2 separate regions of the Homo sapiens genome follow, and region 2 is linked to region 1. The links come from fine-mapping of genetic effects on gene expression. Tissue or cell type: whole blood. Region 1 holds a variant in brackets; the other region holds the start of a gene. All regions are shown on one strand. Distances are from middle to middle.

Region 1 (4,265 bases):
TCACAAGGACGGACACAGGAGTCACGAGGAGGACATGCAGACAGGCTGAACCACAAAGAACAAAGGGGCAGGGCGGGGGCGGCACCGCTCCCATCTCAGAGGATGACTACTCTGGGCAGGGGCACCGCTGGTCCCTTGCCCGCCAGCTCCTGCAGACCAGGCCTGTCCTCCGCCCCGGCCACTGCTCACAGGCTCCTTCTTCCTGCCTCTGGTTGTACAGACAAGGAACGTGAGGCTCAGGCCTTTCCTAAGGTGGTACAACCCACCAAGGACTTTAGCCAAATGGCCGGGGCCAGGAGTGGGGCAGGGCTCCTGTATCTGTTCTCAAATGCTCTGCACTCACCCCACTGCAGGGCCTTTGCACTTGTCGTGCCCGCACACGCTGCCTCCGATCTTCCCACAGCTGCCTGCTCTAACCCGTCCCATCTCTGCTCCCGCGGAGTCACTGTCACCGAGGACCTGGCCTGTGTGAAGGAGCTCTTCCTCTCCCTCCCCTTTCCCAGTCTGTTTTCCTCCTCACGCCTGCCACCACCTGAGGTCATCTTGTTTGTGTACTTGGTTACTCTTCCGTAAAACATGTCACAACAGCAGGACCACATCTGTCTTGCCACCGGTCCCAGCACCAGGCACAGGGCCTAGCACTGGGCAGGAGCTGAGCCAAGATGTCGCAAACGCAGAGTGAACTGGCTTGGGCCTTCCCACACTTAGTGTGACACTGTTGCCATCGCTAAGTACCTGAACCCACCGCAAAGGGAACTCAGAAACTCCCGGGGGGAGTGCTGTGATGGGGGGACGGGCTCCTATGGCCCCAACCAAGGGCCCCTTCCTGCTGAGGGGCCTCGCCTCAGGCCAGAGAAATAGTTAATAAAGCTGAGGTCTAAATAAGCATTTGATTAACAAATGATAAAATAGCTATTGTGTCCCTGAATTAAGCTGTAATTGTGGCTGATAATTGGCTGGTTAGAACTTAATAAGCTGCAATTAAATAGAATGGAATCCAGGGTAATTATGTGGTCACACGGCCCAGGGAAAACTGGGGAAGGAAGGCGCTTTCCTGCCTTGGGATCCTTGGCCGGCGCCTGTGCTTTGGTAGCTGTAGTGTGTGTGTGTGTGTGCTTCTGTGTGTGGGGTGTGTATGTGTTTCTGTGTGTGTTTCTGTGTGTGATATGTGTGTGTTTCTGTGTGGTGTATGTAGTGTTTCTGTGTGGTGTATGTGTGTTTCTGTGTGTGTGGTGTGTGTGAGTGTGTGTGAGCCTCCCTCACCTCTCACCTGGCAGAGGCAGGTGGCCGGCCCAGCTGCCTCACAAGCAGTAGGGGCGGTAGGCAGGCTCTGAGCCCTGGCAAGGCCTGTGGCAGCCCCGGCTGAGAGAGACATAAAGAATTCCTGGCACAGCTCCCCAAAAGGCGAGAGGCCAAGAGAGGGTAGCCGGCAGGGCGCTGGGAACACGACAGAGGCAGGCAGGTGGGTAGGGTCCTTCTGTCTTCCTAATGAGGAAATGAGTTCAGAGACGGGATGACTAGCTCAAGGACACACAGCGACCATGGCAGAGCCGGGGCAGATCACCCGACTGCCCACGGATGGAGGTAACTCTACTTAGAGTAGCTCTGGGGGCACCCTCCCCATTTCCATCCGGGTTCTTCCCCAGGCACACGCACCATAAGGCCGAGTAAGGACAGTGCACCTGTTCCACAGTTGCCCCTCAAGACAGGCCAGCTGGAAAGTCAGGAGCTGCCCCAACTAGGAGTGCCACTCTGCAGCCCCTCCTGACAGTACATTCTTCCCCTGCCTCCTGCCCCCATGCTCCCCTCCCCTCTCCGGGGGCCACCCGAGGGGGGTGCACAGAGCTCCCTCAGAGGCTGCAGCCCGCCATGGCCAGCCCCGCCCCCAGCCCAGGTGTGGCCCCGGCGCGGGGATGATGAACAGCGTGGCCTACACCATTTATGGCCCCGTCAGCATTTTTACAATGTTGCTGGCAATTAATTTAATTAAAGACCCTGTCCCACATATGGCGGCATTTCATATCTCACTGGTTTAATGTGTGCCCCGCCAGAGCTGGGGCCGGGGTGGTCCAGGAGTGGCAGCAGCTCAGGTTGTGCAAGGTGGGGACCAGAGCCCAGAGGCACTTGGGAGGTTACACAGTCGCCTGCCCTTGGCTGGTGGGAGACACTGCCCACAACCACAGCCGTCACGGCACCCACACAGTCACAGCAACGACAGCCATGGTGAACTTGACAGGATGTTATTTAACCCTCACAACAATTCTAAGAGGCAAGGAACTAATTTGAATTACCAATGAAGAAACTGAGGCATGGAGAGGCACAGTAAGTCGAGAGCGATGGGTTCCTGCCCAGGCAGGCTGGCTACAGTGCCCCGGGCTCTCAACCAGGAGCATGCATCTGGCAACATGTCCTGGCACCGTGCTAGGCACCGGCCAACACAGCCCAAGAGGGACCCACGTCCATGCCCCCATGGGGTGGCCCAGGGACCCCAGCCCCACTGGGAAGTCCTGGGAGCACTGGGAAGTCCTGGGAGCACTGGAAAGTCCTGGGAGCACTG[G/A]GAAGTCCTGGGAGCACAGCCTCCAGAATCATGCCTGCTGCAGCCCGGTCCATTAGCATTTGTGGGCACATACACCACTGCCCACACTAGGATGGTGACTGAGGCCACAGGCCACCAGCCAATCTTTGATTCCCATTCTCAGCAGATGAGCCCGCTTGGACCCCTCCTCATACAATGGCCCACAGGAAAACCCAGTAACCTAGGGACAAACCCAGCTCCCACTCATGGGTCCCACCAGCCCAGGGCGACAGCAGAGGCCAGCACATGCAGCCACTCCTTGAAGCTGCAAACGGCTTCCCGGGCTCGGCTCTCCTGAGGCCCCGCTTCTGTGGCCCCCATCAGCTCCTGCCCCGGGGTCCCTAGCCAGGCTCCCCGCCCACCCTCGCTGCCTGCGCCATCCCGACTCTCCTTCTGCCTCTTGCAGTCAGCAGGGCCCCCACCTCCCAGGAAGCCTCCCTCCTTTCCTCCCTCGTGGCCACCTAACTCATCCAGCCTCCACCCCCGGCCCCACCACCCAAAGTGTGCCTTCCCTTGGCTACCTCCTAGCTCAGTGCCGTCCTCAACCTCGCTATTTCTAGAAAGAGAATCCGATCTCACACTTCAAACCCCTGCAATGGTTCCCATACAACTAACACAGCAGTCCCATCCCTGGTCACCAACCCATACCCTGCAGTCAGCTCAGCCAGGTGCATGTATTAAAGTTAGGGCTCACACCCCGACTTCCTCCTAAACCTGCAGGGCACCCCACCTACTACCAATGCACTCAGCCCTGTTCATTCAAAATTAAAGATGTTGCCTCCTCTGGGCTGGTGTGGCAGGGACTGGGGGACGTGGGGCTGCATGGCTTGCTCCTCGGCCTCCCATGATCCTGCTGACGCAGGGCTGGCTGTGCAGGCACCTGCCTCCGCTGTCAGCCTGTGCACCCTCCAGTGCACACAGCAGGTGGGAGCCAACTCTTCTCAGCAGTGTCCAGCTCAGGGGCTGGCAAGTCGGGGGCCAGTGATGGTGGCAGAGTTGAAATGTCTCCTCAACTTGCCACAAGCTCCAAGAGTGGGCAGTAGGGTGTCATCTCTGTCCCTGCTGGCAACTGGCCCAGGGTATGTACTTGCTGGGGGCTGGGGCACAGCCCTCAGTTGGGCATCAGGAGGTTGAGTCCCCAGCCCCCACTCTGCCTCCACCTGGCCACGTGGCCTTGGGCAAGCCACTTCCCTCTCTGGACCTCAGGAGATGTAGGACTGAGTGAGAGGTGGCAAGTTCAGTGCCTTCAGGGGCTGGGTGGGGCTGGGAAAAGTGGACAGTGACAGTGTCCATCCAAGGGGGCAGGCCAGATGAGAGGTGCACCATTTTTTTAATTTTTTGAGACGCAGTTGCCCAGGCTGGAGAGCAATGGCGTGATCTTGGCTCACTGCAACCTCCACTTCCCTGGTTGAAGGGATTTTCCTGCCTCAGCCTCCCAAGTAGCTGGGATTATGGGTGCATGCCACAACACCCAGGTAATTTTTGTATTTTTAGTAGAGACGGGGTTTCACCATGTTGGCCAGGCTGGTCTTGAACTCCTGACCTCAGGTGATCCACCTGCCTTGGCCTCCCAAAGTGCTGGGATTACAGGCGTGAGCCACTGCGCCCAGCCTGCACTGATTTTTTTTTCCCCAAGGGAAGCTGGAAATCTATTTTTATGTGAAACCTCCCATTTAAAAATATTGACAAC
Region 2 (4,138 bases), 620 kb before region 1:
TCCCGCTGTGTGTAGGGGGAGCTCATGCTCTGGGGGTGGGAGAGACCGACCTGTCAGTGACTTGAAGGGTGATCGGTTTGGGGGTGGCAGACACGAAGTCCTGGTAGGAGGAACCCACCAGCCTCCCACCCACCAAGGCTGAGTGTGTGGGCTTCAGGGGCAACAGCAGCTGAAAGGAGGCAGGTTCTCAGAGGACAGTGACCAGTGGCCACCCACTCCCACCAGTCAGGGCAACTGAGAACTATGGGTCCACTGAGTTTGGCAAGTTAGGGGTTACTGGTGACCTTGGCCAGAGCAGTGCCAGAGAAAATGCGGGGAGGAGGAGACAGAGGACAGATGTCTGTCTGCATCCTATAGAAATGAGGGGATGAAGATAACCTGGAAGGGTGACGGGTGCGGAGACCAGGGGAGTGGGCTCTAGGGCATGCCAGCAGGGAACACCCTTGCTTCCCTGAAAATAGGGAAAACTGAGTGCAGGGTGTATGGGAACTCTCTATACTATCTTTGTAACTTTTCTGTAAATCTAACACTGTTCTAAAATAGAAAGTTTATTTAAAAATGTTGATGGCAAGAGGTGAGAGTGGGCGTGGCTGGAGAGTTTGTAGGTGGCTGGTGGGGAGGCAGGAATTTGAGGAAGGAAGAGCTTAGATGCATTTAGGGCTTCTGTTTTTTGGATGCAAAATTGAGTGTGCAGGAGGCTGGGGGGTGAGGGGAGCGGGGGGGGCGAGGAGCTGTGAGCTAGGACAAATCAAAGGAAGCTGGAAGAGGCTGAGGCCACAGATGCTCATGGCCAGCCATCTGCTGCCCCTCCCCGGCTGCAGGGTCTCCCTCCTCACCAGAATCAGGCTCTTCATGCCTAAGGGTGGGGGATGGCTGAAGCTCTGTCCCTCCATGGCTCTCCCCACTTCCCTTCCCCACCATGTGTCACCCACTCCCTTAGGGATCCCCATGGCAGGCCAACCACACCTACTGGCCAGTTGGTCTAGGGCACAGGGCCTGGCTGTGTCCCTGCCTGGGTGCCTCACTCTAGTGGTGGCCATGGAGAAATTGCCATGGCCTGTGGTCCCTAGACATAGTGGGCACTGACTTCCCAAGGCAGGGGCCTGTGAGTATTTTGAGTTTTAAGAGGGTTCTCCCAACTCCAAAGCGCCAGGAACACTGCCACATAGGCAGCCCTGCTCTCCTTCTCTTGGCATAGCCAATTACCCAACGCAGAACTCGGAGGCCTGGCTAGAACCACCTCCTCCTCCGCGGTGCGGTTGGGACCAGGTGAAGTTTGCTCAGGGAGGTCGAGGTTGGAGGCTTTGTAGTGGTGGAAAAGGCTTCTAAGCGCTGTGGACGGTTTCAGGGTCCCAACCTAGCAAGGAACGGAGTTCTGGAAGGCCCTGGCATGGTGTCCACTCCCTTGCAGGGGGTACTTTTCTGAGGCCCCCTCCCGTTCTGTGCTTAGAGCTTTAGGAGATAAAGGTGCCAAGAGGCTGGCCCTGAGCGTCCTTGGAGGAGCCCTGCCGTGGGAGTCTGGGGTTAGATGCTGCTTCCGGAACTCTACTTGGGACTCCTCTGGGAGGCGTGAGGCTTGAGAGAGAATGCAAAGGATCTCCTAGCTGGCCCCATCTGAGAGGGCACAGGCGTGGAGGGGAGGAGAGGCCTGGAATGGAGGGATAATGAGCTGGGTAGGGGCTGAGAATGGCCTGGAATAAGTGGTCATGGAGCCGAGATGGGGGGCTGTGGTTGGGAATTGGGAACTGGGATCAGGATGAGACTGGGATGGGTTGGACTGAAGATGTGCCGTGACACATGTTGGGGGGGACACGTGCTAAGCATGGGGCTGAAGCTGGGATGGGAAAGCAACTGGGGTGGATTTGAGGGTGGGATGCAGATGACAGTGGATATGATGGGATAGACTAGGCAAGGACCTCTCAGGGAAAGGAGACGGGCCAGGGGTGGGGTGTTGTGTGAGCTGGGTTGGGATGAAAATGGGTTTAACATGAGGTGGGACGCACCAGGAATGGAGATCAATGAAGCAATGGGTGGGGCGGAACCGGATTGGGACGGGGGGTGGGCGGGGGGAGGTGGGGACGGGACTGGGTTCGGGGCTGGAAGGAGGGCTAGCGCCGAGGTTACGGACGGGGCAGGTGAGGGTTCGGGACGTGGGTGGGGCTGGCCCTGGAGCGGCGCGCAGGGGCGGTGGGTGAGGGGCGCCCGGGGCAGGCCGGGAAGGGGGGGCGGGCCTCCCCCTGGGCCGGGCCGGGGCGGCGCTAGGACCGAGCGAGCGGAGGGAGCGAGCCGGGCGGAGCCAGCGCCCCCCGCCCCCCGCCGGCCGGCTCCCCTCCCCCGGCCGCTGGCTCGCTCGGCTCGCGACGCTGCAGAGGCTCCGAGGCGGCGGCGGCGACTCCCTCTTTCCCTCCCTCCTCCTCCGTCCGCCCGTCCGTCCGCGCGTCTGTCCGTTCGGCCCGGTCCGGCCCGAAGCATGGCCGGCGTCAGCTTCAGCGGCCACCGCCTGGAGCTGCTGGCGGCTTACGAGGAGGTGATCCGAGAGGAGAGCGCGGCCGACTGGTGAGCCCCCCGCCCCCGCCCCCGGCCCCTTTGTCCCCGCGCCGCCGCCGCGCCTTTGTTTCTCTCCCGCCCCGCCGCCCCGCCGCCGGGAAGGGAGGGGGACCCCGAAATGGTGCAGCGGGCCGGGAGGGCCGGGAGGGGCTGCCTTTGTGCGCGCCGGGGGAGGGGCCGGCGGGCCAGGCGGGGCACTGCCGGGCCCCGAGCGCCCGGAGGCGGCCCAAGGCGCGCGGTGGGAGCGGCGGCCGGACGCGGCCCGGAGGCGCGGGGTCCCGATGTGGGGCCCGGGGCCGCGTGGCCCTGCGGGAGCCCATCCCCCACCCTACCCCCCGGGCCCGGGGGACAGGTGTGCACGGGGCGGCCAAGGGCACCTTCGCCACCTTCGAGCGGGCGAGGTCCGGGCGGGGACGGGGCGGGGACCGAGCTAGCGGAGCCAGCGCAGCCTGCCCGGCTCAGCCCGGCCCGGCCACAGCACAAAGGAAAGCGAGGGCGGGGGAGGAGCGGAGCGGGCTGGGGGCCGGGCGCCCCGCCCACCGGGGGGCCTCTCGGAGTGGGCCGCCCTCCCCCCGAAACCTGGGCTGGAGTGAGGTGGAAGGATGTTTGCTGCCACATGGCGACCGCGAAGTGACTCCCTTACCGCCGCGGGTCGCGGAGGAGGCAGGGGTGAGCTCTCCTCCCCTACCTGAAGGGGACTGCGGGGACTAGGCAGCTGGGCTGGGGGGCACCGAGCTGCCTAAGGGGCCAGCTGAGATCCCTGGGAGGAAGCCCTCTGGAGAACAAGTGTGGAGGGAGCCCCCAAAGACGGCTGAAGGGGTGAACAGATCCACCGGCCCCCAGCAAGGGGCACTCGGTCCCTGATGGGGGAGGAGCTGGGCCGCCCCTCACCCCGCCCCCCAGCTGTTGTCTCCCGCTGAGCTGGGGGAGGGGATGGACCACCTGCTCTGGGGCTGGCGGCCCAGGGTGGTGGAAAAAGGAAACCGAGGGGTTCCTCACAGCCCCATCCTGGAATCCTTTAACCCCCCCGTAATACTCTTCTTCTAGGGAAGGTGCCCATCTGGTTCCTAGGCCTCCTCTCCCTGCTGGCAGATGGGAACAGGTTCTTCTTGAGGAAACTGAGGCAAAGAGGAGGGCAGGTCTGAGGGACCCCGCTTGGGCTGGCCTCACCCGCACACTGGGAGGGCAGCCAGGTGGGGACTCTGACCTGGGGGCTTCTGGAGGAGAGGATGAGATGGCTGGGCATCCATGGCATGGTACTGCAGCACTGGCCAGCAGCCAGGCCTGGAGGGATGGACGCGAGAGACAAGCTCTCGTGTCCTGCAGGTCAGTCACAGGAGAGGCCGGCACAGGCTCAGCAGGCAGGCGGCCCACCCATTGTCCCAGCCCTGCCCCAGGGGGGCTGAGATCATGGGAGGAGCTCTGGGCAAGTGGCCGGCTTGGCCTGGTGAAGGAGCTGGCTTTGGGATAAGGCCCCGCCTGGGGAGAAGCACAGCTCACCCCAGAACACCTCCTTTGCCCTCCAGCCTGGAGGGGTGTTGTCTACCAACACCCCATTTTCTCCTAAAAGCAGAGCTCTGGTGGCCTATTG

The links. PIP is the estimated chance that this variant, and not a neighbour inherited with it, causes the effect.
Region 2: it holds the start of DBN1, and the variant in region 1 is fine-mapped to the expression of DBN1 in whole blood (GTEx, PIP 0.90).

What each region holds. Positions count from the first base shown.
Region 1 is chr5:176,849,225-176,853,489 of GRCh38, reverse strand. The region is part of intron 1 of UNC5A (unc-5 netrin receptor A); the gene reads right to left. Among named protein-coding and RNA genes, the nearest start is that of UNC5A, 41 kb to the right of the region's middle. The variant G/A (reference allele first, on the strand shown) is at 2,558.
Region 2 is chr5:177,471,854-177,475,991 of GRCh38, reverse strand. DBN1 (drebrin 1) reads left to right here and starts at 2,358. Exons shown (of 15, transcript NM_001363541.2): 1 at 2,358-2,556. The coding sequence starts at 2,471. RefSeq lists silencers at 2,121-2,170, 2,181-2,560, 2,641-2,840, 2,871-3,240, 3,160-3,346 and enhancers at 2,495-2,996, 2,997-3,500.